Linked DNA regions of Homo sapiens. The protein of the gene in region 1 interacts with the protein of each later gene in a pairwise test. Each region holds a gene or a part of one and is shown in the gene's direction. Other genes may lie near its edges.

Region 1 (7,776 bases):
TTCAGGCAGCTACTCCTCCAGCCGTCGGGTCAGCCAGCCGTAACTTTAGATACACTTATCCATGTGTAATGACTTTTTAAGAAGCAAGATCAGTTTCCCCAGCCCTTTATGGGAATACCCATGTGTCCATACTTGCTTTCAGCTTAGAGTTTGCTCAGGTTCCTAGAGCTGGTCAGGGTTTGCAGGACCGCCTGGGAGCAGATGGTACCATGGCCTTATTTACAGATGAGGAAACTGAGACCCAGAGGGGAAAGTGACTCCCAAGGTCATGTAGGTAAGCATACGGCTCCCCTAAGGATGAGGCATTGGTCTGGTGACAGTGCAGCCCATCATAAGGGACTGAGCCTGTGGGGTCCAGACCTGCTCTCCTCCCAGAGGAAAAGGCTCCCTGTCACCCCATCGCTAATGCAGATAGCGTCATGTCCAGGGAAGCTGTCACACATTCATCTGGGCCCCCAACATCAAGGACACCTGTCCCTGCAGGCCCCCTGCTGGCACCTTCGGGGCCCAGGGCAGGCCCCTGTCCATTCCGTGTCTGCACTTCCCTCCCTGGTCACAGGTTCTCAGGGGCAGGCTCTTTTCCTTAGCAGAAAGGAAACAAGGGAAGCTGACCTTTCCCACCTCAGAACAAAAGTTGGAAGGGCAGGTGCCTCGTGAGCCTGGAGGCCTCAGGAGGGGTGTCCCCTTCCCTTGTGCCCTCCCCGCCACCAACACCAGTGGACAGGGATCACTAAGAGAGTGGGGCTCGGGAGACTCACCTTCTGCGCTGGGTCTGTGAGAACATCACCTGGAGTGCCCCTCCCAGCGGATGCTGGGGTCGGTTGGATTTTCAGCCTGGCCAGGGTTGGCTGCCTCACCTCAGGAACAGGCTTAGCCTGTGCTGCCACGTGGGTGCCGGTCCTTGCTCTGGCCTGAAGGGAGGGGGCCGGGAAAGGAGGGACTGATCCTGACCCAAACCCCTAAGTAAACTGCCCTCTGCGTCCAGACTGGACTCCCCCCAGACTCTGTCCAGGCCCTTACCACTGCCCTCCCTGTGCCCCCAGCCCGGGCTGCAGGAACTATTGGCTGTTCAGCCAGCAGGAGCAGCAACCATGCAGGTGTTTCCAGCTGTTAACGTGTAAGCCCTGCCTGGCCACGTGCTTGCTCTTGCCTTTTGTGCACAGCCAGTGCCAAGGGGGAGAGGAGGCAGCAGAGACGTTGTGCGGAGGGGATGCCCAAAGGGGACTGCCCAGGCTGGGACAGCCCTGATGGGGCAGGGGCGTTCCAGGAAACAGCAGGTTTTGCCTCTCCTCCTCTTCCCACCCCACTACTCCCACCCCATTTTCCCGGATCAGGAAAAGGCAGGCCAGCATTCTAGGGAACAGGAAGTGAAGTTGGCTTCCAGCTAGGTGCCTGCCAGGGCCTGGAGGAAATTCCTGCAGGCCTGAGCCCGTCTGGGAAGGACCAGTTTCTCTCCTTGTCCTGGTGTCCTGCTTTCTGAGTTTCCCCTGAGGGTGGGGGAGAGCTGTCACTCTCTTCACTCTATGTCCCGCTTCCTCCCCCATCCTCATGGAGCACTCAAACCCTGAACCCTCACACCTTTCTATGGTTGTACCCGTCCCCACCAGTTTCCTCTCTGGAAAGTGAAGAGGAGGCTGGGCACGGTGGCTCACGGCTGTAATCCCAGCACTTTGGGAGGCCGAGGTGGGCAGATCACAAGGTCAAGAAGTTCAAGACCAGCCTGGCCAACATGGTAAAAGCCTGTCTCTACTAAAAATACAAAAATTAGCCGGGCGTGGTGGCAGTTGCCTATAATCCCAGCTACTCAGGAGGCTGAGGCAGGAGCATCACTTGAACCCGGGAGGCAGAGGGTGCAGTAAGCCGAGACTGTGTCACTGCACTCCAGCCTGGGCGACAGAGCGAGACTCCATCTCAAAAAAAAAAAAGAAAGAAAAGTGAAGAGGATAGAGCCCACTAGGGGTCATCAAGGTGTGGGACAGGCAGCATGTTCCTACAGGAAGAAAACTCTAACTCCTGGTTCTGGTTCTTTTTCATCTCATTCATTCATTCATTCATTCATTCATTCATTTGTTTTGAGATGGACTCACTCTGTCTCCCAGGCTGGAGTACAGTGGCTCGATCTCAGCTCACTGCAATCTCCGTCTCCTGGGTTCAAGTGATTCTCATGACTCGGCTTCCCAAGTAGCTGGGATTACAGGTGCCCACCACCATGCCTGATTAAGTTTTGTATTTTCAGTAGAGACAGGGTTTCACTGTGTTGGCCAGGCTAGTCTTGAACTCCTGACTTCAAGCAATCTGCCAACCTCGACCTCCCAAAGTGCTGGGATTAAAGGTGTGAGCCACCGCACCTGGCCATCTCATACTTTCACAATTCATTCTTTGGTGCAAGTTTTACAATATACATTCTATATTTGTCAAGTGATAACTTCCATGTAACTTATAAAATACACATAATTCAGGAAGATTGTGCTAAAATACATTTAACCAATAGGAGTATGCCGTCAGAATATTTTGGCAAACAAGGGTCACTAAGTTTTTTCTGTAAAGGGCCAGGTAGGAGGTATCTCAGGCTTTGTGGCCATATGGCCTCTGTGGCAGCAGCTCAGTTCTGCAGTTCTGCCATGAAAGCAGCCACAGATAAGAGGTAATTGAGTGGGTGTGGCTGTGTTCCAATAAAACTTTATTTCTGGAGGCTGAAATTTGAATTTCAGAGAAATTTCATGTGTCATGAAATATTATTCCTCTTTTGGTTCTTCTTCCCCCCCTCCACCGCCCCCTGCCAAGCATTAAAGAATGTGGAACCCGTTCTTAGCAGCCGGCTGTGGGCTGGATTTGGTCCATGGACCATAGATTCCCAGCTTCTGCTCTAGACCACCCGTTCTCAGACTTGAAGCCTGCTTCAGACTTACCTGGAGAGCTTTTTTCCAAAATGCATATTCCAGAACCCCAGCCCTGATTTTGTAGATTTTCTGGAAGGCCCCAGAACCCGCATTCTAACAAGGAGCCCAGTTGAGTCAGACACAGGTAGTCTGGAGTCCACTTTTTTTTAAACAGAGTCTCAGTCTGTTGCCCAGGATGCAGTGCAATGGCGTGATCTTGGCTCACTGCGACCTCCGCCTCCAAGGTTCAAGCAATTCTCGTGCCTCAGCCTTCCGAGTAGCTGGGATCACAGGTGCCTGCCATCATGCCCAGCTAATTTTTGTATTTTCAGTAGAGACGGCATTTCACCATGTTGGCCAGGCTGGTCTCAAACTCCTGACCTCAGGTGATCCACCAGCCTCAGCCTCCCAAAGTGCTGGGATTACAGGCGTGAGTCACCGCGCCCGGCCAGGAGACCACATGTTAAGAAGCAAAGCTCAAGGGTCTCCAGGATCCTGGTCTGTTCTCTTCAGCCAGTCCTGAGGCCTGGGGTGTGCAGTGCTGTGGGAGACCCCTGCATCAGAATAACTGGCTCCTTCACTACCTTCCAGGAGCTTCCATCCAGTGGGGGTGGGGGACACCACCCGCCAACAGCACAGCCCAGTCCCAGGTGCTATGGAAGCCCTGGGTTCAGCCTGGAGCCAGGGCCAGCGTCCCGAGGATGAGGTGCCGAGATGGACCTTGAAGGATGAGAGAAGCCTGGACTGCCCTTGAGTGGCGAGGGTGGGCTGCCTCCAGGTTGACCTTAATCCCTTCCCTCCCTACCACCATGTGTCCAGATGACCTTGGGCAGGTCCCTTAGCCTCTCTGGATATCGGGATATGACATTGACTACCTCAGAGACTTGTGGGGAGGATTCGGCGAGCTGATATGCATGAAGTGTATCAACTAGGGCTGCTGGCTGGTATCTCCTTCCCTTGTCTTCCCCCACCACCCCAGCCAGGGGACAGGGTGCTGCTGAGGGAGTGGGCTGGGAGAGTCACTTCTGGCCTTGTCTTAGGGATCTGAGAACAGGGCATGGGCCCCGTGTCTGGGAGTGCCCTGGTGCCCTTCCTAGTGGGGTTGGGCGTGGTCAGTCTGGCCAGGGCTGGCTCCCTCCCCCATAAATAGGCTCACCTGGAGGTCTTTTCCCATTTGAGGCAATGAGATATGTATGTGAGGCTTTATGACTTGTCTTTTTTTTTTCATTTTGAGACAGAGTCACGGAGTCTCACTCTGTCACCCAGGCTGGAGTATAGTGGCATGATCTTGGCTCACCGCAACCTCTGCCTCCCAGGTTCAAGCTATCCTTTTGCCTCAGCCTCCCGCGTAGCTGGGATTATAGGCGCCCGTCACCACACCCAGCTAATTTTTGTAGTTTTAGTAGAGACAGGGTTTCACCAAGTTGGCCAGGCTGGTCTCGAACTCCTGACCTCAAGTGACCCACCCACCTTGGCCTCCCAAAGTTCTGGGATTACAGGCGTGATCCACCGTGCTCGGCCTCACCACCCGCCTTTCTTGTGGTGTAGTTCTTGCTGCCTCAAGAACTACATATATCAGGCCTCAAAACCCACCTGATATATGCGTGCCTGGGAATAGGGACCTTGACTTTTCCCCTGTCCCATATGGGCCCAGGGGCCGGTTCTGGGCTGGCCCAGGTGGGGCTAGAGCAGCTGGATCCAGGCACATGAGATGTGAAAGTGTGGGCCTTACGCCGCATGGAGCGGCTGGAGGAAGGAGAGAGGGAGCAAGGGTGCCGCAGGGTCAGATTGCCACAGGGCCAGGGTGCCACAGGGTCAGGGTAGGGCCAGGGTGCCATAGGGTCAGAGTAGGGCCAGGGTGCCACAGGGTCAGGGTAGGGCCAGGGTGCCGCTGGGCCAGGGTGCCGCAGGATCTGGTTGCCACAGGGTCAGGGTGCCGCAAGCACAAGGAGTCACCCGTGATTCTCCAGGGTCTGGCTCTTGGGCTGAGATCCAGGAGACCTTGGCAGGCCTGTCTTTGGGAGTCTGGCACAGCCCCAGAAGGCCATCTGGACAGTTTTCAGACCTGAGAGGAGGAAAGGGCTTGTGTCTGGAGAAGGTGCCATGGGGGATGGGAGGTGGAGGAAGCCTGGGGCCAATCAGGATCTGGATCTAGCAGGGAACACCGAGGCCGGTGTTCTCGTCCCACCATGGGACTCAGCCTGAAGAAGACAAGGTGAATGAACGACCATTTCTCTCTAACTCAGTTGGCTAAGAGGACTGAGCTGGCGCCGAGGCTCTGGACACAAATGGGCCAGTTGACCCTGAGGTTTCTTTCTGGTAGTGGAGGTGGGGCTTCCTCTGGCTGACCCTGCTTAGGTCTCTGATGGAGGTAGCAGGGGCTCTGGTTCCCCCAAACTGGCCAAGTCCTCCACCATAGCACCCAAGGGGTCTGGGCAGAGTGCAGCTTCCCTCCCCTCCCCAGCTTGGCTTGGTGGGCACCTGCCTCCCCTGCCCTCCTGACCTTGATGGCTAATGCAGCCAGCCCCAGGCAGGCACAGTCACAGCCCTCAAACAACATGAGGCCCAACTCAAGACTCCTGGGTGGTGGTGGTCAAGGTGGGGGACTCTGTAGCCAGTAGAGCACTGTGGGGGCAAGAGACTGACTTGAAGGCTTGGAGCCTCACATGCCCGCCTAGTGGGGTGGTCCTGAGGGATATGACTTCTTTGGGCCTCTCTGCTCATTTTTGGAACCTGACCCGAGAAGGAGCCCATCCAAGACAATGTCCCGCCCTCAGGGAGGGTCTGGCAGTTTTTATCCCTAAAGGCTGGGATTCTCAGCGGAGCATCCTAGGCTGTAGTACCCACGACATCTTGCACACAAGAGGTGGAATCGCCTGTTGATGAAGAGCAAGGCTCTGGAATCTGTGATCTTGGGCCACTCACTTCACTTATCAATCCCTTCGCTTCCTTCTTGCCTGTTACATGGGGTCTGCAATCTACCCCTCAGGGGCGCTGACGAGCTCACATGAGCCTGTGACATAAAACACCTAGCACGGCCCTGGCGCAGTAAGAGCTCAGGAAACGGGCTGCTGCTGTGGTTACTGTGGACCCAGGCGGAAACAGAGCAGCCCCGCCCCTGCCGCAGGCATATAAAAGTGACCACTTGGCCGGTCACGGTGGCTCACGCCTGTAATCCCAGCACTTTGGGAGGCCGAGGCGGGTGGATCACCTGAGGTCAGGAGTTTGAGACCAGCCTGGTCAACATGATGAAACCCTGTCTCTATTAAAATACAAAAAATTAGCTGGGCGTAGTGGCAGGCGCCTGTAATCCCAGCCGCCCAGGAGGCTGAGGCAGGAGAATCACTTGAACCCTGGAGGTGGAGGTTGCGGTGAGCTGAGATCGTACCATTGCACTCCAGCCTGGGCGACAGAGCCAAACTCCGTCTCGAAAAAAAAAAAAAAAGAAAAGGGACCACTCACTTTGGTCTGATTCTTCAGTTCTCATGGTCCTTTTACATCGGTCATTTCATTGCATTCTCCAACAGTGTCTGAGGGAGACTGGTGTCTCATTTTGCAGAGGTGAAAACTGAGGCTTGGCAAGATTAGGTAGCTTGTCCAAGGACACACAGCTGGTGCTTCCAGAGCGAGACCTGGCTTTCTGTACCCAAAGCTCTTGGGTAGTCTCTCCCATCCTGGGATCTTGAGGGTCACGGGAAGGAACTGGGTGGTTTGCAGTGGGACCCTTCACCTAGTGCCTTCTGACCTTGCAGATAAAATACCATGAGGAGTTTGAGAAGAGCCGCATGGGCCCTAGCGGGGGCGAGGGCATGGAGCCAGAGCGTCGGGATTCACAGGACGGCAGCAGCTACCGGCGGCCCCTGGAGCAGCAGCAGCCTCACCACATCCCGACCAGTGCCCCGGGTGAGTGCAGGTCCTGTTGGTGCAGATGACCTGAGGCGAGGCCAGTGGGGTGGGGAGGAAGCCAGGAGAAGACAGACAGACAGATACACCTTCCGGAGCCTTGCTCTTAATCAACAGGCGATTATGCCTCTTGTGTGCAAGAGGGGACCAGAGGACCTGAGGCCGGGCCAGCTGGGGTGGGGAGGAAGTCGGCGAGAGACAGACACACACACACACACACACACACACACACACACACATGCACGCACGCATGCAGGCGAGGAAAAGACTGCTTCCCAAGACCCCAAGTTCCATTCTCATCCAGAATGAGGACGTGAGCACCAGGGTCAGGCCTGTACTGGGCCAAGAGGATTGAAAGGAGAGGCCCCCAGGTCATGGGGCTCAGAGCCCCTGCGTGGGATACAACACACAGGCAAATGTGCACACGTGGACATCAGCCTTTGAGCTGTGGGGCTTGAGCCAGGTTGGGGGCGGGGTGGAAGTGCATGGTATGGACTTCTCGGGAGCTCTGGGAGGGGCTGGGTTTGGCAGGACAGTTTCCAAGCCCTGTCTCCTCCCATCTTCCAGTTTACCAGCAGCCCCAGCAGCAGCCGGTGGCCCAGTCCTATGGTGGCTACAAGGAGCCTGCAGCCCCAGTCTCCATACAGCGCAGCGCCCCAGGTGGTGGCGGGGTGAGTAACCCTGGCCGGAGGGGAGAGGCCAGAGGCAGGGGGTCCTTCGGGAAGGCTTGGACACAGCTCATGGATTCTCCTGACCTTTGCACCCACCCTCTGTTGTGTGTGATGATAAGGATCTCAGCCTTGTGAGCAGAGAGGAAATTGGTTGGCGTAGTGGGCAGAGGCTGGCTGGGACTGGGGCCCTGCGTTCCAGCCCTGGTGTACCATGGGCAGGTTGCTCACCCTGCTTTGGGTGGGGTTTCCTTACCCCAGCTACCTGGGAACACACAAGGCAACTTTCTGCATGGGGCCTTCCAGCACTGGGCGCTGCTCTCCTC
Region 2 (7,776 bases), on another chromosome or scaffold:
CAGAAGAGCACAGGGCTTCTGGATCCGTTATCTGCCAGCTGTGTGACCTTGGGCAAGTTGCTTTACCTCTCTGAGCTTCGGGTTGTCACCTGTAAAATCAGAGTTTCAGTCGTAGTTCTGTCCTCAGAGGGTTTGGGGGTAAATTACTTAAAGCACTAAACATTTAGAACAGTTTGGCACATGGTAAGTGCCTGAATTCTATGAGTTTTGTTTCTTTATTCTTTCAAGTAGATTCCTCTAATTTTTGAGCCTTGTAGCACCGAGTGGTACAGGAAAGGCAGGTGGCTTGCCTTATACACACACGTTTTCTTTTAAGTAAGGAACAGAAGCCTCAAGCTCTCCCATTCTGCTCTCTGCATGTTCCAAGGAGGATCACGGACAAGCTGCCCACCCACTGGCCAAGATATAGGTTGGTGGCATTTGACTTGCTGTCTTGACAAGCACCTGAAATTAAGTTTTTGCAGCAGTTGTACATTTCTTCTGACCCACTGAAAGGACTTGATCTCCTTGGCCCCCTGGGATGAAAGTATTACCTTAGCAAATCTGTTTTTTTTTTTTTAATTAGAACATCATTTATTTAATACATAGAATATTTTGAAAACACAAGAATCGAAGAATATTAGAAGTGGCTTTATCATTCCTCCTGGGATTCACACATTGCAATTAGTATGTTTAGATATAAAATTTTGTGGCCAGGTGCAGTGGCTCATGCCTGTAATCCCATCACTCTGGGAGGCTGAGGTGGGCGTATTGCTTGAGTCCAGGAGTTCAAGACCAGCCTGGACAACTTAGCAAAACCCTGTCTGTACTAAAAATACAAACAATTAGATGGGTGTGGTGGTGCACACATGTAATCCCAGCTACCCTGGAGGCTGAAGTGGGAGAATCACCTGAGCCTGAGAAGGTTGAGGCTGCAGTGAGCCGATATCACGCCACTGCACTCCAGCCTGGGTGACCAGAATGAGACCCTGCCTCAAAAACAAAACAAAACAAACAAACAAACAAAAAACAATTTGTGATAGTATCTAAACAATTTGTGATAGTATTTAATTGTATAAACATATAAACATCTGTGGCACACATTTGCCCATAAATGAACTGAATGCACAAATACCTTGATCCAGTTTTTAGAAAGAATTTTAGTTTTGTTGTGGCAAGAACACAACATGGGCTGTACCCTGTGAAAAGATTTCTAAGTATATCATACATGACTGTTTTAAGGATAGTATTGTATAGGAGATGTCAAGGAGTTATTTACCTTTACTGCATGAGGGATTCGGGGATCTAAAATCGTCAAACTCATAGAAGCAGAGAGTAGAAGGTTGTGGCCAGGGTCTCAGGGGCCAGGGAAATGAGGATTTGCTGATCTAATCAACAGGTATAAAGTTTCAGTAATGTTGTAATAAATCTTGCTGTCCGTAGAACGTACAGTTTTTTACATCACCCTGAAGCTACAGAGTTTTCCACTCAGAAATGAAGCTGAAACATGGGTCTGAGCGGGTTTCTCCTCCTGGAATTGACCCACTCTGCCCTATTTTTCTTCTCATTATAATTGAAGCTATATATATATATATATATAGAACCTGCTCCTGTAAGGTTTGAGCACAGGTCTTCTAGACATCCTCATGTCTCTGATGATTTTAGAAAAAAATTAAGCTTAGTCCTTTTAGCTCGAACCATCCCAAGCTATTATATTTTATCAAAGTCCTTTCTGATAGTACATATTTTTTGTATCCAGAAAATTGGGTCTGCCCTGTATAGGAATCTGACATTTCACCTTTCCAAAAATTAGACCATTTCGTTTGCATCCTTTAAGCTGATGTGTGGAGTAATGAACACATTCCAAGAGGGAAATCGTATTTGACACAGAAAATACTTTGGAGACGCAGCGATTTCCCAGTGGCGTGTAAGGAGACTATTGAAATCCTAGCACGTTTGCTCTGAAGGACAGAGGGCAGCTCGTCCTGCCTTTGCCACCCAGCATGGGAGTTACACAGTAAGCATCATCCACAAATTAATACTGGCTGACTTTCCTAAAATCATCCTTTAATCTGTCGCTTTCACATTTACCCACAGTGTCGTGCCGGAGACCTCAAACACCGAGGCGACGTTTTTAAAGAAGCCACGAGGCTCTTCCCAATGTCTACCTCCATTATTTAAAATACTGCCTCGAGGCACAGGTATAAATATTAAAACTTTAATTAAAGAATCAATCAGTGATGGAGCTTCAAAACAAGGGGATCTAGCACTTTCAGATGATGTCAACTGTGAACACAGTTAGACTCGGTCGTAGGGCTAGGAGTTTTTATGAAAAATGACGCGTGGAGTTATATACACAGGCAACTGTCCTCATTTTTTGAATCTGTAGTCATTGTGAGCACTGTCACTCATTACCACTGGTTTGTCATTGTTCGCTAGTCAAAGAGACATGGGTGACTGTGGCCTGCTGCTACAGAAGAGTGTGTTGTCTTAGGGGAAGGAGTGGCTAATGCAAGAAATATTTATTTGGAATGTACCACATGTTAGACCCTGTGCTTGGTGAATAAGGCAGACGAGAACTTTCCTTTCTTGTAGCTTATATTGTCGTGGGGGAAGCCGCGTCATAAGCAAGACGTTGAAATATATTTTCATAAGGATAATGAAAAGGGTTCCAAAAATTATAGTGTGATAGTGACTTGGGGGGACATTCCAGAGAGGAGAGATTTGACCTGAGAAGTACATGAAAAGAAGTAGCTGATCTGTATGGATCCATACATTTATCCAATGAGTATTCTACTCATCTCCGCTTTCTTTTTTTTGAAACAGAGCCTCACGTTGTATCCCAGGCTGTAGTACAGTGGTGTGATCTCATCTCACTGCCACCTCCACCTCCTGGGTACAAGTGATTATTATGCTTCAGCCTCCTGAGTAGCTGGGATTACAGGTGTGCTCTGCCACGCCTGGCTAGTGTTTGTATTTTTAGTAGGGATGGAGTTTCCCCATGACTGGTCTTAAACGCCTGACCTCAAGTGATCCACCCGCCTCCTCGGCCTCTCAAAGTGCTAGGATTACAGGCGTGAGCCACCACGCCCAGCCTCATTCACCCCTACTTTCTATGAATTCCTGAGTGTTCATCAGGCACCCACTGTGTGCCAAGCACTATTGAAAGCACTTCAAGTGCAGAGTGATCAATACATGCAGATACCTTGTCCTAAAAGACTTCCGTTCTAGGATAGTTGTCTGCATGGAGGGCGTTTCAGAGAAGGGGACCAACAAGCACAACGATCCAGAGGCTGGAATAGTGACAAAATCATACAGTTGAAGGTTGGTCCTATAGGCCCTTGTGGCCTGGGAAGGGACCCTGGCTGTTATTCTAATGGGAAACCATTGGGGGATTTTATGCAGAGAGATACCAGGATATATTTATGTCTTAAACATTATGGGAAAATTGTTAGGTGTTTTTGAGATGAGTGAATAAACAAGCATGCCTTCCTGGCCGGCCGGCTCTATTTTTTCAAAGTTTCAATTCATTTCTATGACCAGATTTGGTCTGTGGACGTAGTGACATCTGAAAAGGTAAGCCTTGCAACGTCTGAGAAATTAAACTCGATTCCCCACCACCACCTACTTCGTAGGGCTTACACTAAAATCTTTCATTCAAGAAGAGGGATTACTTTATAGGGAAAAAGAACCTCATTTTCCAGTAATGTTCTTTGTGTGAGGGTGGAAGACCCTGGGAGGATACATCTGTATACATTAGCCTACTTAGATTTTCTTTCTCTGGGGCCTCCCTTCAAAGAGGCAACATCATGTGTTCTTGTGTGCCTGCATGAGCAGCCGCACCCTCCCACCACCACATCCTTTTGATGGCTTGACTGACAAGTCTCCTGGGAGTACCCTGAGAACAGTTGCACTCAGATGCCCTTTATTGATCGTCTGTCCGGGTAGGTTCCCTTTCAGAGTATGGCCACAGATTCTCCCATTGGTAGGTGTGGGCCAGGGTAATAACAGATATTGACAGTGCAAAGTGGGTTGCTTATGGAGAGCTCTGAGTGCAGCCGACGTTGTCCATCTTCAGAGGCTACCCTGCCCTTAGAAGGTTGAGGTGCAATTTGTTGGAGGGTTTGGACACCTGGACAATTCAGTTTTCCTCCCACATTGACTGTCTCTTTATCCACAATACTGGAACTGCATTATTGCCTATTATATGTGACATGAACATCAGAATAAGTGTACATGGATTGAACTCTTCCTATGTAGCACAAGCTGAGCCAAGCACTGTACCTTCATGGCTGTGTGTTGTGCTATGTGTTTCAGGCATGTGATCGCCTCCCCCACCCACCCAGCAGTTCACCTTATTCGATTCCTGCTCATCCTTCAGGTTACAACTCAAAAGCCCCAGGCTTAGAGAAACTGTCCCTGTTTGCCTGTGTCGATTCTCGTTTTTTACAGCCATCCCAGGGGCATCTTATATTTTATTGAGTGACTCTGTTTTATCCTTTTTCTCTTACTCCACTCCATGGTCAACTGCAGGTGGACCATGCATACACCTGTTTGGACATCACTGTCTCCTTAGCATCTAGCGTGGTGCAAGGCACACAGCAGAAGCCCCATATGGAAATAATGAATTATTCCATTTGATGCTTCTCACACACTTTGAGGTTAGTGCTTTTCAGATCCCCATTTTGCAGATAGAGAGTGGGGTGTAGGCAGGCGTTAAGCAATTTGTCCAAGGACACAACAGCAGGTAAGAGGCACTTCCAAGATTTTGAACCTGACAGTCTGAGTCCACAGCCCCTGATGCTCATCACTGTGCACATGGCCTCTTTTGCTGCCTTTGCAAGATACAAGGGAGGGTGGGAGGCAATGTGTGCAGTGGTTAGGGAGCTCTTGCTGCATAGCTTGAGTTGCTCTGAGAAGTGATGCTGAGCCCATTAGAGCCACAAAAGGAAAACAAGGCACTTGTTTCTATTTATTGCAGTATTACTTTATCGTTGTGTAAGAGCCTCGCTAGATTTCTGCACTGGTGCAATCTGGCTCTTGTTTTGTTGTTTGTCTCCTTGGAGTCTCAAGGCCCTGGGTTGCCCAGGGCATCTCTGGCCTCTTTATCTAGGCTCACGCTCTGAGTATGATTTTGAGGGAGCGGTTGGACCACCTGCCTGGTTACAGGCAGTCCTTGGGCATCATGCAGTCACAGCTGGAGCTGCTCTGATAGCCACTCAAAATGTGGTGTGCAAACCACTGCTCACTCCATCTAATCACCGTCATCTGAATCAGCTTCCCTCTTCATTTCTTCTGAGAACAAAATTAGATCTTTGCCAGCATAATGGATGAACTTGTGCAATCACCTTGTTCATTGCTAGTTCTGCATTTCCCCAAGATGTTGATGTCTCTTTTCTGTGAATTTTAGAATATAGAGTGTCAGAGATGAGGGTGAGGACTTGAGGTTTTCAAAATTGTCTTCTTTGTACCATGGTTGGGACCCTAATAGCTATGACACTCACTGGAAGCTCCTTCTGTGCTAGGGCTTCCTGTGTGTCATTTCATTAACTCTTCATGGCAAACCCTTTATTATACCACTTGACAGATGAAGGAACTGAGGCCCAGTGACTAAATGGCAAACCGAGATTGCAGACTCAAGCAGTTCTCTTCCCCTGCTGTGTGTGGAGAGGGCATGCTTGGGATGCAGGGAATAGCAGAGGCACCATGATAAGGTACTAGGAAGGAGGCAGTGCAGGTATTTCACTGAGATTCCAGAATCAGTGTGTCTGGCTTGAGATCCCAGCTCCATCACTTTCTAAGTCCATAACCTTTCACTTTCTTCAATTTCTCTGAACCTCAGTCCATCCCTACAAATGGAGATTATCACTACATTGTACAGTCCGTCTGAGGATTAATCAGCCTGGTAAATTATTTTAGCAAAGTGCCTGGCACCTAGTGTGTGTTTAGTGCAAGTAGGAGTCATAGGGCTGACTATGATAATCATGACGATTACTATTATCCATTGATAATAATGATATCATTATTAACCTTGTTTTTGTTGCTAGAATTTCACAATCCCTTTGGGCAGCAAATTGGTCCCAGAATGTGCTTCGTATATTTTCCTCTTGACTGTAACTGAGGTGACAAATTGAGAGTGAAGGGGGAAGAACCCAGCGTAGCTGCAAATGTACGGTTGAGATCGTTGACAGACTTGAGGCCCTGTGTGGAGTTCCGCCTGCAGAGGATGCTGACAGCAGCCATATGCATGGGCTCTGATTGATTGGCAGAGAGAAACACTAATTTATTAGACTCGTTATGAAAAGTGACGGAGCAGGGGATTGAGAGGGCTGATTCAGCAACAGTAGCCCTGGCTAGATCCCAGGGGTATTGGCTTGGTGTCTGTTTCCCTTGGGACCAGCCCCCTGTCTTGATTCTGGGTCACTGCCTGTGTTCTCAAGTGAGTCTCCTGAAGATGTCCATGGCATGGCTCACTTTTACCACGTTGTAAATGTCATACCTATTTCTTCAGTATCCTTAGAAAGCTGAGTCCAGTTCAGGTTGCTGTTGATTGCAAAGGCTGATAAGAGGAGGGAGGGAGTGTGTGCATGCAGAAATTCCCCAGTGGAGGGAAAATAGTCCTTTTCACAGGTTAGAGAAAGTGCAGTAGTTTCCTTGAGGGAGAATAAAGGGCATGGTTGATACCTCTCTTTAAGAACATGATGACCGGGCATGGTGGCTCCTGCCTGCAATCCCAACACTTTGGGAGGCTGAGGCAGGAAGATTGCTTGAGCCAGGAGTTGGAGACCAGCCTAGGCAACATAATGAGACCCTGTCTCTGTTAAAAAAAAAAAAAAAAAAAAAAAAATTAGCTGGGTGTGGTAGCTCATGCCTGTAGTCCTAGCTACTCAGGAGGCTGGGACAGGATTGCTTGGCTCTGGGAGTTTAAGGCTGCTATGAGCTGTAATTGTGCCACTGCACTCCATCCTTGGCAACAGAGCAAGACCCTATCTGTAAAAAAAAAGAACATGAAGCTCTTTGTAGAAAGATTTCTCATTTCTGATTTGGAGAGATTGTTCAGTCTGAATTACAGCAGGTAGGATGCTGGTTAAAGAAGTGTCTTGCCTTCAAGGTGATAAGGCACTGAATGGGGCTATGTTGGAGTCAGAAAAGCTTTGAGAAGACTGAATTCCCTGAGCGCCAAGGTGCGAAAGGACAAAGTCATGGCAGCCAGGTACACTTAACTTGTGGATCCAGATTCTGCCACTTCCTGGCTGTGTGAGCTTGGGCCAGTTACTGCACCTCTCTGAGCCTCCATTTACTTGTCTATTAAAAGGCAAATGATTCTGTCTCCAAGGATGGCTACCTGGGAGTGAGTTAAGTCAAGCAGCAATCACACAGACTTCCGAGCTAGTCACTTCTTATTTTTTTTTACCTTGTGGTATTCAGACAATAGCCTCTCACCCCATGACTCTTTGATACAAAAGGTTCCCTAGTTAGTGTGCTGTGATTTGTGGAAAGATATTTTGTTTCCTAGTGAATTTCATTCATTTTGCTCAGGAAACTTTATTGGTTTTGTCTGTGTAAACCTAAAATAATCTTCAAAAGTTCATAACAAGAACAAGGAACCATCCACCCCATTCTATAAACTTATTTCTACTGAATTGTGCTTCGCTGGTGTCAGTTTATAATGAGAAATAGTATAAGAAAGCCGATTAGCCACAAATTTTAAAAACTTGACATTATATATGCACACTGAAAGAGGATAGACTATTTAAAGTTTGAGAATTTTTACAGTTGAATCTAGCATTTGAAAGA
Region 3 (7,776 bases), on another chromosome or scaffold:
TCACAGCTAGGCTTTGAGTGGGAGAAGGAAGCCCCAAGGGACTGAGTGGATAGTGATGGCTAAAAGAAGAGGGAGAAACAGATTGAGCTTCTGAGACTAGCTACACAAAGGTGAGAGCTTGGAGGCTAATGTGTATTTCAGAAGGGATATCAGGATGGGGTTTCTCGTGGGAGGTTTGGTGATCCTGATAGTTAAGTTCCATGGCAGCTGGACCAGATGCATCTTGCTTTTCTTCTTTGCACAGAATGTGAAGGCTGTGTCTGAGACTCCTGCAGTGCCACCAGTTTCAGAAGATGAGGATGATGATGATGATGATGCTACCCCACCACCAGTGATTGCTCCACGCCCAGAGCACACAAAATCTGTGAGTCTTTGGGGACCTGGCCAGTTTTGTGATTTATTAGAGTAAGTGGGGAGAGGGAGGAGTTGGTGCTGATACCTAGAAGTTTAATATTCTGGTAGGCGTCCTTAGATTTTGGAGCTGGTGAAATCACTGAACTACCTTGACTAAAGGTACTTTCTGTATGATTAAAGACAAAAAATCATGTGTTTATTTATCATTGGTTTGCAGATAGTCCCAAAGTGTCCTAGGTAATTGATGTTTATACCAGTCCAGTCTCGGTTCTCCACAGATAGGACAGGAAGATATATAGGATTGATGCTACTTAGTGCAGGACTAACATAAATTATTCCAGTCTCCAGGGAAGCAACAAATTGTCTTGCTACAGATCTTTTCTTCTCTGTTAAATGTGCAGTGTTCAGCCTCTTAGAGCATTATTGATAATATTGAAAGACCCAAGAGAATATATAAATACATTAGTGCTATTAATATGCTGGGCATCAGGAGTGCATTTTGATGCCGGATGTTGGCAGTGATTTCTATTTAACTTCCTTTGAGGTTCCTGCATCTCTGAGAATAGCCATGGTCCCTCTAACCTTGCTTTGAAACATCTAGTCCCTGTGCCTTTTACTTAATTTGGCATCACTGAGCACTGACCTACCATCAGATGATACTCTACTAGTGTTTCTTTGTTTAGGTCTTTTACTAAGATGAGAGCTCCATAATGAAGGAACCATCTAGCACTTCTGTGATCATGAAAGAAAAAAAAAAGGGCTACCTCTGGAATACAGCATTCAGGGAGGTGTTCAAACAGAAATTGGTTGAATGACTATTGGAGATGCTGTGGAGGAAATTCAAAGGAATTATATGACCTATTAGGATGAGAACTTACAAACAGAATCTGTGGAATCATCTCTGTAGGTCACAAAGTTACCTCAAGGGAAAATGCGCTTCAAAATTGGAGAGTCGTTAACACTGATATGGTTTTTTTTGGTTTGTAGACATGTTCATTTAAAACATTTTTTTCCCCACTAAACCATGAACACCTCAAAAAGTAGAGGAAATCCATATGTATGTATTTCTAGTGCTTAACATAGTTCTTGGCACCTGCAGAGGTGGGTAAATATCAGAGGACAGTAAATATTGAATTAATTAATTAATTGATCTTCATAGCATTTCTTTCTAAAAAGGTATTGGTAATTCCTAATTTATAGAAGAAGCAGCTGAGATTTGGAGAGGTGAATTGATCTGCCCAGTCTCTTAGTAAACAAAAGAGCCAGGATTTGAAAGCAGGTAATTAACCCCAACTCCAGGTTGTTTTCCACCATAGCACAGTGGTATTTTTGTGTGTACAAACCTGTGCTAGGAGCCAGAGAAGGAGACTATTAAAGAAGGAAAAGGCAAGGTTTCTGTCTTCAAAGAGATATATCAGGACAGGCAAAAGAGGACAAGGCATGGAAGTACAGGTTTAGGTGCCTGGGATATAGTTTGTCTACAGGTACAAGAATAGAAAATTGAGAAATCATTATGCTAGAGTAGTAATCAGGAAGGAAGCCATTGCCTCTGATCTCAGCGTCTTGGCTTATTGCTGTTCCCACTACTGGAATGTTCTCTCCCATTTCCACCTATTAAAAGCCTGTCCAGTCAAAAGGTAGCATGGTCAAGCAGTCCAAGGTGCAGGATGTAGTTGGCTTTAGTCTCTGTGGAGCCATGGGTTTGAGTCCCACTGTTGCCAATGGCTTTGCATCATCGCAGATAAATGATCATCATAGATAAATGATCCTCTATCTTTGTAGAAACCTATCCGTCCTTCAGGATCCAGTTGCAGGATCCTGTTTGTTTATTTATTCCATCAAATATTTACCTGAATGCTTGCTTTCTTTTAGTAAGTGGTTAGATGGAGGAACTCACGGATGAATGACCCACATTCCCTGTCCTTATACTGTTTATGGACTATGCAAAAGATAATTGTGATATTTTTATGATAAAATCTGTTAAATACCTTGAAGCATCTCCTGGGGAAAGGAAGTATAATTTATGATCACTTCTGAACCTCAGTAGTATATAGCTTGCTTATTTCTTTATAACATGTATCACTTTCTGCCTTGTAGTTATGATTTTCTCACCTCCTTTATAAGAATGAGAGGTTGGGGCAGCATTTTGTACAGGGTGAGGCAACAAATAGATTCTCAGTAAATGTTTGTTATGTAAATGAATGAATAGGACATTTAATATTTTTAAAAGGTAAAATTTGAGTGCTTAATGTCTGCTGGGGATGAGTCTGATTACCTCACATATTAATCAGTTTACTCCTACAGCAACCCCAAAAGATAGTTATCATTATTATCACCATTTTATAGATGAGGAAACTGAAACACAGAGAAGTTAAGTAACCTGCCCAAAGTCATGCAGAAGGTAAGAATAATAAGAGTTGGGATTTAAGTTCAGGCAGTCAGGTTCCAGAGTCCATGTTCTAAATCATCACACTCTACTACCTCTTGATGAAGAACAAAAGTAGTTCCTTCCCTGCAAGGGTTCAGGATGTAAGGAGGGAGTAACTCAATAGAAGTTGGTGTTGTACTAGTAATGCAAAGTGCTATTTGCATTACTACAGGATATGTCTTTTAACTTGGGGAAGCATAAAATATTACAAATGAAGGGGATTCTTACCTAATAGAATTGTCTTCAACTAATTTCTTTTGTTACAGAATATTTCTTTTAGCTTGGGGAATACAGGATATTTCTTTTAGCTTGGGGAAGCATAAAATATTACAGATGAAGGGGATTCTTATCTAATAGAATTGTCTTTAACTAATTTCTTTTGATAGTTGTCTAGCCTCTATTGAATATCTTTAGTGCTGAGACTCTCACTTCTTTTGTTTACAGTGAGAGTAAGGAAGGCCATTTTACCCAGAATGGGTGGGCCTGGGCACAGAGGAGGAGTAATATAGATTTTGACATAAGAGAAAGGATGAGTTTATTGGGGTTTGCTCTGTGGATGTTCTAACCTCACATCTAGGAGAGGTTCCCCTATGCTAACAAAGGCTGGTCTTGCCAAAATTTTGCACTAATAATGCAGGTATACACACGGTCTGTGATTGAACCACTTCCTGTCACTCCAACTCGGGACGTGGCTACATCTCCCATTTCACCTACTGAAAATAACACCACTCCACCAGATGCTTTGACCCGGAATACTGAGAAGCAGAAGAAGAAGCCTAAAATGTCTGATGAGGAGATCTTGGAGAAATTACGTAAGGAATTTGTAGCTTTCTGAACCTTTCTTCGTTTTATGACTGGTCAAGCACAGAGATTTGCTGGTCGTAGGCTTGGTCCATGCAGCTGGCTGGCCATGCTTGGTACCTTAGGCACAGACTGCTTCTCCTCACCCTGCCCCTGAACCTCCCTTCCCTGTCTCACAGCCCTGGTTGGATACTATGTTAGGATGGAGATGTGGTGAGAGTGTGGATAGCTTACTTTGAGGGCAGGGCATCCCTCACCCCTAGGCATGTATTATAGCGAAGACAAATAGTTTTTCTCTAATGAATAGCCTAGAATGCCATGTTGAGAAAGACTGAGGACCTAGTGGAAAAGGGCACTGTGATCAATTATTGATGTTTTGCCATTGACCTAGGAGAAGACGCATCTGCCATCTTGGTTGTAGGAAAAGAGGGAAGGGAAGTTAACATTTTATGAACCTATAGTATGTATCAAATGACAAGCAAAATATTTTCTTGATTTTTTTTAAATTTAATTCTCTTATTAACCCTGTGAAGAAAAGCATTATGATCCTAATTTTTGCAATGAAGATATCTGAGGCTCAGGGAGGCTAAATATCCTGCCCAAAATCACGCAGCTAAAAAGTGACATGGCTGAGGTTAGAACACAGTTTTTGTTCCTGTAAGTAGAGCATACTGCCTCTTGCTGTCAAGTGGAAACTTCCATTTTACTTTCTTTAGCTGCCAGAAATGGGGGTATGTTAGGGTAGCTTATTTCTGTGTTTCAGTAAACTGCAGAAGAATTCATGTTAGAAGGAAGAACTAGGTTGATCTGTGGGCTTGGAAGAATCATTTGACAAGGGCTTTAATTTATTCACTGTATCTACTTACTTCCAAAAAGGATTTGATGTGACCGATTTGGCGACGTCTGCAAACTGGCATTGCTTTGTGGTTCTCTAGTTCTTCCTGATTAATTCCTATATGACTTTAAAACAAATTTTCACTGTTTTAAAAATTGCCCTTTTCTGGATCCCTCATAAAATGACAAAGTAAGAAAAGCCACTTACCTAGTCATCTGTTTACTCCTGTATGTAGTCTTGTTCTCTAAACCAGAGTTTTTTGTTTTGTTTTGTTTTAACAATAACACTTAGAATTATGACTTAGAATTAAGACTTGGCCTGGGAGTTAGGACACTTGAGTTGAAGCTTCTGCTCAGCCACTGACTTGTGTCTTAGGCAATTTTCTACTGTTCTCTAAACCTCATTTTTCTCATTTTTAAAATAGGGATGTTAATACTTGTCTCATTTGCAAATCAAATGAGGTAATATATGTGAAAAGTACCAATTCCTAGTAATTGGGTATTAATGGAGAGCACATTGGACCGGGAGACTAAAAATGAAACTCCTAATCTTAGCTCTGACACCAATTTGCTGTGTGACCTTGGGGGGGAAGTATCTTCTTCCCTTCTGTGGGCCTCAATTTCTCCATCTCTAAAATACAAGTTATAAAACCCAGTGGAAAACCTCTATGTCGTTGCACTTGAAATATTCTTTGTTGTAAACCTCTTCTCTACTTTATCTCTCTGGCTTTTACTTAAAGTGGAAATCAGTCCATATATCACCTTTCTGAAGTTTTTCCAGTCTTTTTTTTGTGTGTGTGTGCCTCTTTCTGTACCCCTTTGGCTTTTATCACAGCAATTATTATATTTTCATGGAACTTTATGCTTACTTATCTGTCTCCTCCATGAAATTGACCTTCTTGAGAGCAGGGACTGCCTTGACTGTGTCATATCTCTTCATTCCTAACACAACATATGGCTTGGTGCGTATTAAATGAGTAAATATTTACTGAATGGATTAATTAAAAAATGAATGACTTTTAGGAGTTTAGAAATGGAATAGCTTACTATGAATCAAAGCAGTCAAGGTGATGAAACTTTTGGTTGAGACTTATGGGGGAAAAGCTGAGGGCCTGTTTAGCATGCTTTTTGGCTATTGGAGGTAGTTCTTTAACCCTTGCCAGCTACAGGGGTTGGGGAAATGTGGAACCTTTTTTGTATCTTGATTTGGGAAAAAATGATTCATGGTCTCTGTTTCTTTCAAAGGAAGCATAGTGAGTGTGGGCGATCCTAAGAAGAAATATACACGGTTTGAGAAGATTGGACAAGGGTTAGTAGGGGCATTTTCTTTCCCTGGAGAAATGACTTTAAAGTGTGTGTGCCGGCATATATGATTTTGCTTTTTTTTTGCCTCTCATAAACCTTGTTCTTCTTTCTCCACTTTACCCCTCACCCATCTGGAGTTGTTATGTGAGACTGACTTGAGATTTGGCAGAATTATGCTTAATATGAGAGAGATGCCATTAGCTGACCATGTTGCTAAAAATACCCCTGCAGTGACAGTGAGAGAACGGTTTTTTTTCTTAGCACAAAACCAACTTCCCAAATTACAACTCTGCTTTTCCGGATGAACCCTGTTTGTCCTAGTGCTGAGATCCACCAGCACTAATATAAAATGGAAGACCCAAAACTATAAATCCTTCTACTACTGTGATAGGACCTGTTTTTCTAGGTAGATGCCAGAATTTATCCTTCTTGCATTCATCCTTCTCTGTATCTTATATGCTGCCCTCAGTGTAATGAATTCAGCAAGTCTTAACTGAGTTCCTATTGTGTGCAAGGCACTATGAATTCAGAGACAATCTCTGCTTCCAAGGACCTCAAGTCAACAGAAAAAGATAGGCAAACAATTGTATAGTCATATGTTGCCTAACAAAGGGGATATGTTCTGAGAAGTGCATCCTTAGGCAGTTTTGTCATGTGAGCGTCATAGAGTGAACACAAAACTAAATAGTATAGCCTACTACACACCTAGGCTATATGGTATAGCCTCTTGCTCCTAGGCTACAAGCCTGTACAGCATGTTACTGTACTGAATACTGTAGGCAATTATAACACAATGGTGGTTGTATATCTAAACATAGAAAAGATACGGTAAAAATACAGCATAAAAGATAAAAAAAAGGTATATTTATGTAGGGCACTTAACATGGATGGAGCTTGTAGGACTGGAAGTTGCTCTAGGTGAGTCAGTGAGTGGTGAGTGAATGTCGAGGCCTAGGACATTACTGTGTACGCTACTGTAGACTTTATAAACCCTGTACACTTAGACTGTACATTTATTAAAAAACAAAGTAATTGTGCTATGACGTTACAACTGCTACAGTGTTACTGGGTGATAGGAATTTTTCAGCTCCATCATAATCTTATGGGACCACCATCATATGCGGTCCATCGTTGACTGAAACGTCGTTATGTGACACATGACTGTCTTGTGTTTTTAAAGTGTTTGGCTGTTATTTTGAGTGAAAGAAGCTAGATATGAAAAAGCAGATACTGTCTCATTTGATTTATATGAAATTCAAGAACAGGCAAAAGTAATATATGATAATAGAAGTCAGAATAGTGGTTATTTCTGGGAGGAGGATGTAGAGTGGGAATAGGCATGAAGGAATCTTCGGGGGTAATGACTGTAGTGTCTTTTGAAAGTGGCCATTATTTTGAGTGAAAAAAGCCAGATATAAAAGAGCAGATACTATGTCATTCTATTTATATGAAATTCAAGAACAAGCAAAACTAATGTATGATAATAGAAGTCAGAACAGTGTAGTTATTTCTGGGAGGAGGATGTTGAGTAGGAATAGTCATGAGGGAATCTTTGGGGGTGATCTTGGTAGTGAACACATGGGTGTGTACATATATAAAAATCAAGTTGTACACTTAAGATTTGTGCAAATTAAGTTATACCTCTCTATAAAAAAAAAATGAGATTTCTAAAGACCCACCAAAAGAGATAAAATTAAAAAGAAACTGAAAAAGAAAAATGTCTGGCTCTCAGTGTTAGTGGAATGAAAGCATTGTTGCTAATGATGTCATTGAAATTTTCTTTTTTTTTTTAAATTATACACCCAAGAATTTCTGAAAATAAAAGATTGCATAATATAGGGAGGTTCTGTTTATACAGCATTCTACAGTTCACATCTGTTATTTGCATTTATTGTTTAATCCTCAGAACAACTCTGGGCTTGAGTGGATCTTATTTTTTTCTAGTTCCAGTGTTTTTCAAAATAGACATACTTTTGTGAGTTTGAACTGGTGTAAGGTATTTAACACCTTGAGAAAAAAATTATTTTGCTTACCTCAGAGTAATGTGGGATGGT
Region 4 (6,641 bases), on another chromosome or scaffold:
CTGCCTTGGCCTCCCAAGGTTACACCCATGAGCCACCATGCCCAGGCTATTTTAGTTTTTCTTACAGGGTCTTGCTTTGTCTCCCAGGCTGGAGTACAATGTCATGATGATAGTTCACTGCTGCCTCACCCTGTTGGGCTCGGGCTGGGACCCAGGCTCAAGCCATTGCACTCAGCTGTTTTTTTTTGTTTTTTTTTTTAAGGTTTTTGTATTGACAGGGTCTCCCTATGTTGCCCAGGCTGGTCTTGAACTCCTGGGTTCAAGCAGTCCTCCTACCTTGGCTTCCCAATGTGCTGAGATTATAGACATGAGTAACCACACCCAGCCAAGTTTATTACAAATTGTAGAGAAGAGAATAAAATTAGGGAAGTGACATCAGAGGGAGCAAGTGACAGAGCGAACCCAGAGAAGTGGAACATGCCAAAGTATGGCAATAATTGTTCCCAGGAGAAAAATTATTTTTTTAAGAAAAGGAAGGCCAGGCATGGTGGCTCCCGCCTGTAATCCCAGAACTTTGGTAGGCCGAGGTAGGAGAATTGCTTCAGCCCAAGATTTGAAGACCAGCCTGGGCAACATAGCAAGACCTCATCTCCACTAAAAATCAAAAAAAATAATCGAGTGTGATGGTGCACACCTGTGATCCCAGCTACTAGGGAGGCTGAGGTGAGAGGATTCCTTGAATCCTTCTTTGCTGAGAAGGGCTGTTTTCTGCTCATCCTGGATCTTGGGGGCTTCAGATATGTCTAAGAGCAGAAAAGCTTTTCCCATTGCCACTGGGTCACAAAATAGCCGAAAAGTAGACAAAAAATAGAGTCAGAACTGCCTTAAAGAGATGGAAATGCACTATTAGAGAGCCAGCTTTGTTTTGGCAAGAGCATAGAACACAGAAGAGGAGTGTATCGGGCAGAATGTTCTTTTTTCTGCTTCCAGGAAGTGTCACACACTGTGCTTGCTTGGAGAATCCCGAAACCCTGCAGGAGAATACTGTTGCCTGCTCCTATCTCATTATGCACCCAGTGCACAAACATGTGCATACTGACTGACTTCAGCACATGAAGGGGCTTGGTAGTCATTCAAATGTCATCTTTCTTTGGTGCAGACCTGGCTGACCAGGGCTCTTATTCAAATTATTGACCTTTGCCTGTACCTAGCTCTGGGCTCACTTATGAACCAGGGTCTTACAGTAACACCAGCCCTGTGGGGGGGATCTTGTAATAGTTCAAATACTGGCATATTGGCTAGGCGTGGTGGTTCACGCCTGTATTTCTAACTGCTCAGGAAACTGGCAGGAGGAGTCTTTGAGTCCAAGAGCTCAAGGCTGCAGTTAGCCATGATTGTGTCACTGTACTCTAGCTTGGGTGACAGAGCGAAACCCCATCTCTTTTTTTTCCCTTTTTTTTTTTTTTGAGACAGGATCTCACTCTGTCACCCAGGCTTAAGTACAGTGGTGCGATCACGGCTCACTGCAGCCTTGACCTCCCAGGCCCAAGGAATCCTCCCACCTCAGCCTCCCTGGTAGCTGGGATCACAGATGTGCACCATCACACGACTAATTTTTTTGATTTTCAGTGGAGATGAGGTCTGGCTATGTTGCCCAGGCTGGTCTTCAACTCTTGGGCTCAAACAATTCTCCCACCTCCGCCTCCCAAAGTTCTCGGATTACAGGCGTGAGCCACCATGCCTGGTCTTCCTTTTTTAAAAAAAGATAAATATTGTAGAAGAGACCCTGTATCTTAGCTAATAATAATAATAATAATAATAATAATAAAATCCCCCAAAGAGTATCAGTCTCTTTATCTAGAGAAGAAATGACAATAGCCGTTTTTTTTGTTTTTTTTGTTTTTTTGTTTTTTTGTTTTTGAGATGGGAGTCTCGCTCTGTTGCCGAGGCTGGAGTGCAGTGGTGCAATCTCGGCTCACTGCAAGCTCCACCTTCTGGGTTCACACCATTCTCCTGTCTCAGCCTCCCGATTAGCTGGGACTACAGGAGCCCGCCACCACACCCGGCTATTTTTTGTGTTTTTAGTAGAGACGGGGTTTCACCATATTGGCCAGGATGGTCTCAATCTCCTGACCTCGTGATCCACCCGCCTCGGCCTTCCAAAGTGCTGGGATTACAGGCATCAGCCACTGCGCCTGGCCGGCCTTGCTTTTTAGAGACAGTTGAGATGAGAGAAGACTTGGTAAGGGCAAACGGGCGTGCATGCCAGTTCTTTGGGTCCTGGACCACCTTTGAAAATATGCAAAGCTCTGTACACTCTCAGAGAATTATGCATATATGCAGAGTTTGGTTTATAGTTTTCTGTACTTCACTGTCTCTGAGGGCAGTCTTTTTGCCCTGTGTTAGCCTTGGATTAGAGGGTAACAACAATCATGTAAGGCTGTGGTTCTCAAGTGTGGTGTTAGAAGTGCTCATCATCAGGTTCCACCTCAGAAACAGATTGGGACCCAGCTATCTGTGTTTTAAGAAGCTTTCCAGATGATTTTTGCCACACTTTAGGGAGAGTCCCCTGATGAAATTTATACTCCTGTGTGGTCCTTATGCTTCACACATCCCATATTGTACCTTTGAGAGACCACCTGCCATCCTCTTGTTGTGACAGTACTCTATTCCTCCTAGGCTATGTCTTGCCCAGCCACGTGACTGAGGAGATGCTATGGGAGTGCAAGCAGCTTGGGGCTCACTCCCCCTCCACCTTGCTGACCACCCTCATGTTCTTTAATACCAAGTAAGTGTTCTAGAGGCTCCACTGCTGGCATCTGTCCAGTGAAGAGTGTGGAAGCTATCCAAGAGGCCTTCTGAATTCCTCTGACATATATTTGAGAAACTGGGCTACTGAAAGCCCTAACCCCACTTGGCTGCATTTTATTTGGTAACCAGTGAGGCAAACACCCTTGCCAGACCCCTACCATCCATCTTGATGTGGTTCCTGCACTGGACACTGCTTGGGTACGGGCCTGCCCAGATCTTGGGAATGTGGGCAGTGGCTCCTCTGAAGCACCAGTGGGCAGAGGATGAGTCATGGTATCCTCCCGGCACCCCTCCCTCTGCCTTGCATTTTACTTGTGATCCAGGTACTTCCTATTGAAGACAGTGGACCAGCACATGAAGCTGGCCTTCTCCAAGGTCTTGCGACAGACAAAGAAGAACCCCTCTAATCCCAAGGATAAAAGCACGAGTATCCGGTACTTGAAGGCCCTTGGAATACACCAGACTGGCCAGAAAGGTAGGGAAAGGAGGCAGGGATGGCAAAAACAGGTGCTACTTGTCCTGCCCTGTCCTGCCCTTGTGCCTGTGAGGCTAGTGATAAGTGTAAAGGTTGGGATTTGCTGGATAAAATTCTCCACTCCCTTCTCCCCAGCCAAAAATTCCAAACTTTCCTCCTAGAAGCAGAGAAGCCCCAGACAGAATAGCTGCCTCTTCCCTTAGTAGTCACTGCCCATGCCTCATACCTTCCCTCCCCCGACCCTGTATTTCCTAGTTGGGCTGGCTGAAAGCCTAAGTTTCCTGATCTGGGCCTGAGGTAAGGCAGTCTGATGCCAGGTCTGTGGTGGTGGGGATGTGTGTTTTATAGTTACAGATGACATGTATGCAGAACAGACGGAAAATCCAGAGAATCCATTGAGATGTCCCATCAAGCTCTATGATTTCTACCTCTTCAAATGGTGAGGCTTTATTGTGACTTGCTGTCCATGTGTGCGCATGTGTGTGTATGCGTGTGCATGCTCACTTGTGTGATCACTTATCATAGGGGAGAGGCATTCTCTAGTCCCAAACCAAGTAAAAACACTTCCAGAAAGCTAAATTTAGAAGCAGCCTTGCTCTGGCTTTCCAAAGGTGTGTGATGTGCCTAGCACTGATAGAAAAAGGGGTCCCGGGTCCCTACAGTCACCTTTCATGAAAAGGGTATGAAGGTACAGAGAATCTACCTTCATCACATATTGAGCATGGCCCTGCTTCCTGACCTTGACCTTTTGTCACTGCCATCATTAATCTAGGTGAGACTCCTCTCAGCTTTTTCTCCCTTTTGCCCCTTCAATGGTTTCTCATTACATAGTAATTCTTTTATGGCAGACAACTCCTTTGATGCACTCCCCCTTGCTAACCTCATGTCTGTGGAGCTCTTAGTTCCCTAGCCACACTAGCTCCTCTCCACTCAAGGACATCATATTATGCCTCTTCTCAACTTAAACACAGCTTATCAGGGAAGCATTTCCAGATTCCCCACCTCTTCCCTGTGACTGTTTCCTCGGTAGCACTTATCACTGTTTTTTATTTTGTATTTGTTTAACTTTAATTGCTACCTGTGTCCCCTCCTATCTGTAAGCTCCATGGGTAGGAAATACTTTTCCTGCCCATTTTTTTAAATATCAGCACCTAGTGCTGACCTGGCACTAGTAACCCTTGAATAAATCTTGAATGGATGGATGAATAACTGTTAGAGGATACAGCATGCCAAGTACTTAATAGAGGTACAGCACAGTTCGGGGGAGGGGGGTGAACCCAAGTTTAGGGCCCCACTGTAATGGCCATCATTATTGGGTAGAAAACACAACATGAGGCTGGGCACCGTGGCTCACGCCTGTAATCCAAGCACTTTGGGAGGCCAAGGTGGGTGGATCACCTGAGGTCAGGAGTTCGAGACCAGCCTGGCCAACATGGAAAAACCCCATCTCTACTAAAAAATACAAAAATTAGCTGGGCTTGGTGGCTCGTGCCTATGGTTCCAGCTACTCCAGAGGCTGAGGCAGGAGAATCGCTTCAACCAAGGGGGCGGAGGTTGCAGTGAGCTGAGATCACCTCACTGCACTCCAGCCTGGAGACAAGACGCCATCTCAAAAAAAAAAAAAAAAAAAGCGCAAAGACTTGGAGATAGACGCTTTGAGCAGTGAAGCTGGCTTCAAGTAGGATAAGGATAGACTCACATGAGTCCATGAGAGCCCTAGGCTGGTGCAGTCAGTGATGGATCACAGCTGGTTTGTGGGAAGGAGGGGCAGAGGGGAAGTAACCCAACATTTGGGGGATTTGCAGTAGTCCCAAAGGAGGACCAGGATGTAGTGTGTGGTGGCTGCATGGAATTCAGTAGCTGTGCCACAATAACTTGGGGCCTTACTGTTTGCAGACAGCATCTGTCTGGGAAGTTCAGGGTGGGAGGGTTGAAGTTATATTGGTGGTACCCAACTTTTATCCGCATATTCTTCAGCCCCCAGAGTGTGAAAGGCCGGAATGACACCTTTTACCTGACACCTGAGCCAGTGGTGGCCCCCAACAGCCCAATCTGGTACTCAGTCCAGCCTATCAGCAGAGAGCAGATGGGACAAATGCTGACGCGGATCCTGGTGATAAGAGAAATTCAGGAGGCCATCGCAGTGGCCAATGCAAGCACTATGCACTGAGATGCCTTGGCCATGGCACAAGAGAAACCAGCCAGGAAAAACCAGACAGACTTTCACACTAAAGAAGAGGCCTCCATTTTTTTTTTTCTTTTTTTTATTGGTGTAGTTACGAAGCCTTTCAGGCTGCTTCTGTTTAAAATATAAAAGAAAACTTTGCCCCCTTTGCATCTTCATAAACCTGCTGCGGCAGACTCCTCAGCCGATGGTGGCTCTGGGTTTCCTTGAGTGTCATATGTCCTAGAAAGTTGCTGGCTGACTCTTTTTTGTCTGGGGCCTGGGGAAAGGGCTTGGACTGTGAAAAGAAATGTGGCCCCTTTCCATCTTCAAGAGAGATGGAATTAATGATGGATGGACCCTGGAGGGAATCTCCCCAGCCGACTTCCACTGGGCTGACAGACTTTGCTGACCACAGGGGAACGATGTTCTTTTCTTTCTTCATGATCAGACATAAACTTAGCATCTTAATGGAAGAAAAATGAGGGGAACTTCAATTATGATTTATTAAAGACAATTTCTATTACACCCTCCTTTATGACAAGTGACATTTTAGATGTAAAAGTAAAAACTTTACCATGCCTTTTTTTTTTTTGTTGGCCTAACATTGAGGCCTTAAAACCTGAGGCTCCTGTGCCTGATGGAATTCTTGTAACATACACTTGTGTATCATATAAAGATACCACTCTGTTTCTCTTATGTATTCTTACTCTAGTTGTTTATTAAGAATGACAAGCACGTCTTTTCAACATGTTAGTGAACAACGTCTCTTTATTTTGGGGAGGAGCCCGGCGGGACAGTAGAAGTAAACCCTTGCCTGTTAATTGAACTGGCCGAGGTCCTGCGGGGAGTGTGGGGTGGGACGTGAAGTGGCAGCTCCTCAGTGACAAGGCCACTATGTGCTATACGCATGCGCTGTTTCTTCAGCGCCAGCTCCGCCCCCGCCGCAGCGAGGCGGGTAGGTTCCGCCCGCGCGCACTACGCCCTGACGTCAGCGTCGCGCGCAGCGCAGTGACGAAATCGGCTGGTTTATATTGGCGCGGCCCAGACGGCAGAGGTCTCTGCGGCGCGGTCCTCGGAGACACGCGGCGGTGTCCTGTGTTGGCCATGGCCGACTACCTGATTAGTGGGGGCACGTCCTACGTGCCAGACGACGGACTCACAGCACAGCAGCTCTTCAACTGCGGAGACGGCCTCACCTACAAGTGCGGGCCTATGGGGCTCACCTGGGCGAAGAGAGGGGCGGCACCC

Evidence for each region.
Region 2: the proteins of LASP1 (region 1) and RBFOX1 interact in binary tests that used the Homo sapiens proteins (3 or more experiments, as listed by UniProt).
Region 3: the proteins of LASP1 (region 1) and PAK1 interact in binary tests that used the Homo sapiens proteins (3 or more experiments, as listed by UniProt).
Region 4: the proteins of LASP1 (region 1) and QRICH1 interact in binary tests that used the Homo sapiens proteins (3 or more experiments, as listed by UniProt).

The regions. Positions count from the first base shown.
Region 1 is NC_000017.11:38,907,694-38,915,469, forward strand, and holds part of LASP1 (LIM and SH3 domain protein 1), read left to right. Parts: intron 1-6,631; coding exon 6,632-6,782; intron 6,783-7,285; exon of another isoform or gene 7,286-7,349; coding exon 7,350-7,453; intron 7,454-7,776. UniProt on the Homo sapiens protein: Plays an important role in the regulation of dynamic actin-based, cytoskeletal activities.
Region 2 is NC_000016.10:6,021,709-6,029,484, forward strand, and holds part of RBFOX1 (RNA binding protein fox-1 homolog 1), read left to right. Parts: intron 1-7,776. UniProt on the Homo sapiens protein: RNA-binding protein that regulates alternative splicing events by binding to 5'-UGCAUGU-3' elements. Regulates alternative splicing of tissue-specific exons and of differentially spliced exons during erythropoiesis.
Region 3 is NC_000011.10:77,351,486-77,359,261, reverse strand, and holds part of PAK1 (serine/threonine-protein kinase PAK 1), read left to right. Parts: intron 1-244; coding exon 245-364; intron 365-3,419; coding exon 3,420-3,594; intron 3,595-5,662; coding exon 5,663-5,726; intron 5,727-7,776. UniProt on the Homo sapiens protein: Protein kinase involved in intracellular signaling pathways downstream of integrins and receptor-type kinases that plays an important role in cytoskeleton dynamics, in cell adhesion, migration, proliferation, apoptosis, mitosis, and in vesicle-mediated transport processes.
Region 4 is NC_000003.12:49,029,207-49,035,847, reverse strand, and holds the end of QRICH1 (transcriptional regulator QRICH1), read left to right. Parts: intron 1-2,619; coding exon 2,620-2,728; intron 2,729-3,074; coding exon 3,075-3,226; intron 3,227-3,574; coding exon 3,575-3,665; intron 3,666-5,203; coding exon 5,204-5,396; 3' UTR 5,397-6,141; downstream 6,142-6,641. Other genes in the region: IMPDH2 (inosine-5'-monophosphate dehydrogenase 2), read left to right, coding at 6,498-6,595. UniProt on the Homo sapiens protein: Transcriptional regulator that acts as a mediator of the integrated stress response (ISR) through transcriptional control of protein homeostasis under conditions of ER stress.